2 separate regions of the Homo sapiens genome follow, and region 1 is reported to be linked to region 2. Evidence: microRNA targets listed by miRTarBase, many of them from high-throughput screens and not tested one by one. Region 2 holds a microRNA gene; the other region holds the end of a gene's coding sequence.

Region 1 (3,419 bases), not on the chromosome of region 2:
AATTGAATATATAAATCATAGAGCCAGACAGGGTGACTGGATCACATGCAGATAAGGGAAAAGGATGAAGTCACTCAGGAGCAGCAAAAATCAAGACCAATGCATAGCTTAGAATGTAAAGGGTATACAGAATAGAAATCAGAGGAGAAATGAATAAGCAACTAAATCTTGATGGTTTTTTTACATAGCTCACATCTTGTTATGTTGGTTCTTTTATATGAGCTTACAATTGAGGCAGATGGTTTTGGGGTTTTTTTTTTTTTCAAACATGTATAGTTTTTCCACCTTGATTTCAAGATGTTCAAGGAAAGCAACCTCTTCCCTTTCTTTCATATTTTCCTAAACCCACCACAGCTGGCAGTCTTCGACATACAGTAAAACTCAATAAATTTTTAATTTACTGGATTTCATCATGACAAAGAATTCAACTTTCTACAACCCCCTCGCCACAAAAAAGCCCAAATCTCTCAGAAAAAAAAGCAACATTATAATTTCCTACATGATCTTGTATTAGGTATATCTGCTCTCACAAAATTCTTGACTACTGGAAGTGTAAGAAACATTGCACTGTTATTGGCTTTCTGAGAGTATTGTGTCAAGGCATATCAATGAGAAAAAAATTCATGAAACTGGTGAGAGAACATAAGCCAATGGCAAATTTTTAAATAGATAAATAGAATGCCAAACACAGCCTCTGGTAAGGCACTGATAGAATAGGAATTAGGAGCTAAGGATATACAACTTTGGGGGCAGATACAGAACCCAAATAGCTTTTGGCTTCAACTGCTACAACTACTGATCAGCCTTTATAATTAAGGATAGAAGGATCCAAAACAGGGCTAGAGTACCAGTGTTGGCAGATTTCAGAGAATAGCTGTAAACCAAAGAAGAGCAGTCTCTTACAGGCTAGAGAAAGAGTCACAAGATTCACACTTATGGCCACAGAACAGTGAACCTTTTACTGGGGATTCAAGTTTAAAATCACACAGCTTAACAGTAATGTTAGTTTTACCACTAGGTGGCAATGACACAGCTGCATTGGGCTGACATGATTAATTTTAAAAACTGTGCAAATCCAGACAGAAATTCCAAGATCTGTAGTACATATTTTCATTTTAGAAAAATTATTTTATGTACAGCTTACTTTATAGCAGAACGTGTCATTATCTGATTCAATATGTATGTTAACTTCTGATGGTTTTTCACACTCTACACTGAGGAAATTCATGCAATAAACACTATTTTTAAACACTTTCATCACACATCTTCTGAAAAATATAGACATACACCTATCATGAAAATAAGAGAAATTATGGAAAACTAAAAATACTTTTGAAGTTTTAGTATTCTACAGAAAGCACTATAAAATGTTACGTATTTCAACAAAAAAAGTTAAACCTTTAAAAAATGACTAATAGAGAACAATTGTAATTTATTTTTTAAAAATTTTTGGCCAAAACATGAAATAGCATGGAAACACTTTACTTTTAAATTACAAGTTACATTAATATTCATATGTGCAAAGTAGTTTCAATGTCTTGAATAAACATACTTAGTTTACAAAAAAAATTTATCAAAATTCTGATTTAGATTACATTTTAGCAGATTAATCCCTTTTTATATGTATTAAAATAATAAACAATAATATTCCTTAGTGTCTGGCACTTTCAGTAATTATTTCTGCTTTCTTCATAAAACAGGATACAAACATATGACTTATTTAAAATCATAAAACTTTATTATTGTAATTTCCTTTTCTCATCAAAGGGCCAGATATGACAATATTTTTCAAATTATAGACAACATTTGTGAGTATGCAGTAAAAACACTAAAAAAAAAAAAAAAAAAACTTATTAAATCTCAAATTCCCAAGATGTTCCCCCATATAAGGTGGGAGCTCATATCATCACATGTAACATTACAAAACCTGTACTATAAAATTAGATGAATAAATAATAAACCTATACTATTACCAAATTCATAATAAAAAGATCAACTTACCAAATTAAAATCAGCCTATTTATTCCCTTTGTATAAATAACCTAAAGTTCCCCAGGTTTTTATTTCCCAGTTTCCTACAAATGAATTGATCAGAATGCCTCTTTATAGATCAGCTTTCCCATAGTTTCTCTCTCATTTGGCAATAACTTCCCATATTTACTTCATTTCCAGAATAATCTCCCCCTCTTGCAACCCACACAAATGTAAGAGAATGAAGGCATAATTTCTATAATTCATAATTATTTCCCCATTATTGAATTTCATTTTTGAATTATTATAAATCATCCTGAAATCTAATAATATAAATCTTTCTCATCCTATCAGTCTATTAAAATATACAAAACATCATTTAAGATGGTTAACACAAGAAAAGATAACTATGGCAGCCTTCATAAATCAAGCAAAAGATTTCAGAAAAGTGCTTCAGTCTGTTCAGTTATCTCTAACTTTCACTAGAAAATTAAGGGAATGCCACTGTTACAGAAGGTATAATTGCAGATTCTAAAAAGTGAATACATGTGTACATGTAATTTATATCTATTCAGTATCATCTTCTGATTATCTGTACAAATAAAAGGACAAAAGACACAGATGATGAAAACACATAATCCTCAAACCACTTCAGATACATTTTGTGCCTGTATTTCACAGGACCAAGTCTGAGAATTCAGAACACAAAGAAAATTAAGCCATATTGCAAAGAGTTTGTCACAAACACAATGAGCAGAACAATAAAATTGAAATGACATTATTGACTTGACTTTGTCATCTTCTGTTTATTTCTGATGGTGGCTCGAAGTTTACGTATTACCAGTCTATCAGGTAGAATCATATCACCTTGTTGTTCTAGATAATCCAATAAATTTTCAGTCCACTGGAGGGCAGCTGCATGATTAATATGTTTCTCTGGAATTAGTTCTATTTCCTCCTCCTCATTTTCACTGGATTCATCTGCCTGGCCTTGTGCTCTTCTGATGATTTCGCTATCAGTTAACACTTCATAGCCTGGTTCAGTACTGTCTACTTCAAGCCATTTTTCAAGGTTCTCAGTAGTCACATTTTCCAATCCTTTGGTGTGTTGTAAAATGGCAGCCACAGTAGCCACAGAAATATCTTCAACATCAAAGTCCAGGCTCTCTTTCTCCTCTACCATAGGGAGAATCTTCTTCCATGCTCTGCTAATGGTAACTGGTTTTACTAAGTTCCATGCCATTGCTATTTCATAAAGTGCATCCAACAGAGTTAGCTTCTTCCAGAATGATTTCAGGTCATTACCTTCTTCCAAGTTGTTCTGGAGAAGACCTGCACGATAATTTCTCTTCATCGTTGCTATGACTCCCTGATCTGAAGGCTGAATCAATGAGGCCACATTAGGTGGTAAATATTTAGCAAATATTTGGCCATCATCTGACCTTAGG
Region 2 (3,419 bases):
AATTCTTCAGACCTCTTTTAATGCCATTTAGTCAGAATTAATATGTTAAATCAATATAAATTAGTATAAATGAGTATAACTAATGATTAAAATAAATTAATGTGTTTGGCTCCATGTTTCTGTCTTCTGCCTTCTATCACTGATGTTTTATTCCTATCCTTGTTGTTTTCTATAGTTTCTTTTATTATGTCTTTTTCTGTCTTGTGATTTGAAAACTATATGACACATTGTAATGTTTTAATTTTTCTAATTTTTTGCTTTTAATTTTAACTAATTTTATTTTTTAGAGAAGTGCAGGTTCACAGCTAAATGGAGCAGAGAGTACAGACTTCTCATATGTCCCTTTCCCCACACACAGCCTCCCCACTACAGCTTCCTGCCTCACAGGAGCACACCTGTGACAACCAGGAACCTACCTTGATCCTTCATTATCATTCAAAGCTTACAGTGCACATTCACGTTTACTCTTCACGCTGTACGTTCTGAGTCTTGACAAAAGTATAATGGCAACAGGATGTTATTCACTGCTAACAGGAGATGAACTATCAAGCCACAAAAAAATACATGGAGGAAACTTAAATGCATATTGCTAAAAGAAGAAGCCAATCCGAAAAGTCTACGTACTGTTTGATTCCAATTATATGACGTTCTGGAAACGGTGAAACTATGGGATCAGTAGAAAGATCAGTGGTTGCCATGGACCAAGGGGAAGGAAGAGATGGATACACAGAGCACAGAGAATCTTCACGGCAGTAAAACCATTCTGTATGATACTATAATGGTAGATATATACATTTGTAAAAATCTATCGTAACTTTTAATCTTTTAAATTACATTTTTTTTTTTGATGGAGTCTTGCTCTGTCGCAAGGCAGGAGTGCACTGGCACGATCTCGGCTTACTGCAACCTCCGCCTCCCGGGTTCAAGTGAGTCTCCTGCCTCGGCCTCCCGAGTAGCTGGGAATACAGGTGCCCGCCACTGCGCCTGGCTAATTTTTGTATTTTTAGTAGAGACTGCGTTCACCATCTTGGCCAGGCTGGTCTTGAACTCCTGACCTTGTGATTCACCTGCCTTGGCCTCCCAAAGTGCTGGGATTACAGGTGTCAGACACCGCACCTGGCCGTTTTTGTTTTAAGAACTGCAGACAAGCTGGGTGCAGTTGCTCAAGCCTGTAATGGCTGCATTTTGGGAGGCTGAAGTGGCTGGATTGCCTGAGCCCCAGAGTTCAAGACCAGGTGGGCAACATAGTGAGATCCCGTCTCTACAAAAAAAGTATTAAAAAAATATAGCCAGGCATAGTGCTGCATGCCTGTAGTCCCAGCTACTCAGGAGGCTGTGGTAGAAAAATCACTTGACCCAGCAGTTTGAGGCTGCAGTGAGCTATGATCATGTCACTGCACTCTGGCCTAGGCGACAGAGCGAAACCCCATCTCAAAACAAAGAACAACCAAAAACCTAGAAGCACACCTCAGAGATAGTGTGGGTTTGGTTCCAGACAACTGCAGTAAAGCAAATGCTACAAACAAAAACCTACAAGCACACCTCAGAGATAGTGTGGGTTTTGTTCCAGACCACTTCAGTAAGGCAAATGTTACAATCAAGTTAGTTGCATAAACATTTTATTTCCCAGTGCTTATAAAAGTTATGCTTAAACTATATTGTAGTCTAATGAGTATTTAATAATTATTAATTAGTAATTAATAGCATGTCTAAAAAACTGTGTACATACCTTAAGTTAAAATACGTCAGTGCTAAAAAATGCTAATGAATATCTGAGCCTTACCAAGTCATAATCTTTTTGCTGGTGAGAGTCTTGCCTCTATATTGATGACTGCTGGCTAATCAGTGTGGGGGCTGCTGAAGGTTGGAAGCCTGTGTCAATTTTTTAAAACAATGAAGTTTGTTCCTTTCACCAAAGATTTCCCTGTAGCATGTGATGCTGTTTGACAGCATTTTATCAACAGTAGAACTTCTTTCAAAATTGGAATAAACCCTCTCAAACCCTGCTGCTGCTTTATCAACTAGGTTTATGGAATATTCTAAATCCTTTGTTGTCATTTCAACAATGTTGATAGCATCTCCACCTGGATTAGATTCCATCTCAAGAAAATATTTTCTTTGCTCGTCCATAAGAAGCAACTCCCTATTTGTTCAAGTTTCATCATGAGTTTACAGCAATTTCATCTCACCTTAAGGCCCTAATTCTAATTCTAGTTGTCTTGTGATTTCTACCACATCTGCAGGGACTTCCTCCACTGACATCCTGAGCCCTCAAAGTCATCCATGAGGGCTGGAATCAACTTCTTCCAAACTCCTGTTAATGTTAATATTTCATCCTCCTCCCATCAATCACAAATGTCCTTAATGGCATTTAAGGATTGCTATTAAGGACATTTGTGATTCACGGGAGGAGGTTCAAATATCATGAAAAGATTAATGGGGAATCCTTTCCAAAAGGTTTTCAATTCAGTTTATCCAGATTCATCAAAGAAATCACTATCTATGACAGCTATACCTTTACAAAATGCAATTATTAATTAATAAAAACACTTGAAAGTCAAAACCACTCCTTGATCCACAGGCTGAAGGTAAATATTGTACTAGCAGCCATGAAAATAACATTAATTTCCAAGTAAATCTCCATCTAAGCTTCTGGGTGGCTAGGTGAATTGTCAATAAGCAGCAATCTTTTTTTCTTTTTTCCTTTTCTTTCCTTTTATTTTTTCTTTTTCTTTCTTTTCTTTTCTTTTCTTTTTTTTTTTTTTGACTTAGTTTTGCTCTTGTTGCCCAGGCTGGAGTACAGTGGTACGGTCTTGGCTCACTGCAACCTCTGCCTCCAGGGTTCAAGCCATTCTTCTACCTCAGCCTCCCAAGTAGCTGAAATTACAGGTACTACCACCATCCCTGGCTAATTTTTTTGTATTTTTATTAGAGATGGGGTTTCATCATTTTGGCCAGGCTGGTCTTGAACTCCTGACCTCAGGTGATCCTCGGCCTCCCAAAGTGCAGGGATTACAAGTATGAGCCACTATGCCTGGCCAACCAACAATCTTTTTAAAAGAATCGTTTTTTTTTTTTTCTGAGCAGTAGGTCTCAATAGTGGGATTAAAATATTCAGTAAACCATGCTATTAACAGATGTGCTGTCACCCAGACAGTGATGTTCCATTTCTAGAGCACAGAAAGAATAGATTTTGCATAATTCTTAAGGGCCCTGAGATTTTCAGAGTGGTCAATGAGCACTGGCTGTAACTTAAAGTCACCAGCTGCAGTGGTCCTCAAAGAGAGTCAGCCCATCCTTTGAAGTTTTGAAGCCAAGCGTTGACTTCTCTCTAGCTATGAAAATTCTACATATTCACTAAGCTTAATCATTTCTAGCTCTGGACTTAAAGTGAGAGACTTGCAAGTCTTCCTTTCATT

Evidence for each region. Region 2 holds the annotated microRNA hsa-miR-4477a (CUAUUAAGGACAUUUGUGAUUC, at 2,382-2,403, shown strand). A microRNA usually pairs through its seed, bases 2 to 8, with sites in the 3' UTR of a target mRNA and lowers its output. Matches are read on the target gene's strand: a 7mer-m8 pairs with bases 2 to 8, a 7mer-A1 pairs with bases 2 to 7 and ends in A, and an 8mer does both.
Region 1: the mRNA of JRKL is a reported target of hsa-miR-4477a. Seed matches in the 3' UTR shown: 7mer-A1 at 1,851-1,857.

Annotation. Positions count from the first base shown.
Region 1 is chr11:96,391,555-96,394,973 of GRCh38, reverse strand. JRKL (JRK like) reads right to left here. Exons shown (of 2, transcript NM_001261833.2): 2 at 1,413-3,419. The coding sequence ends at 2,750. Among named protein-coding and RNA genes, the nearest start is that of JRKL, 3.3 kb to the right of the region's middle.
Region 2 is chr9:41,231,421-41,234,839 of GRCh38, forward strand. MIR4477A (microRNA 4477a) reads left to right here and starts at 2,335; the gene lies at 2,335-2,415.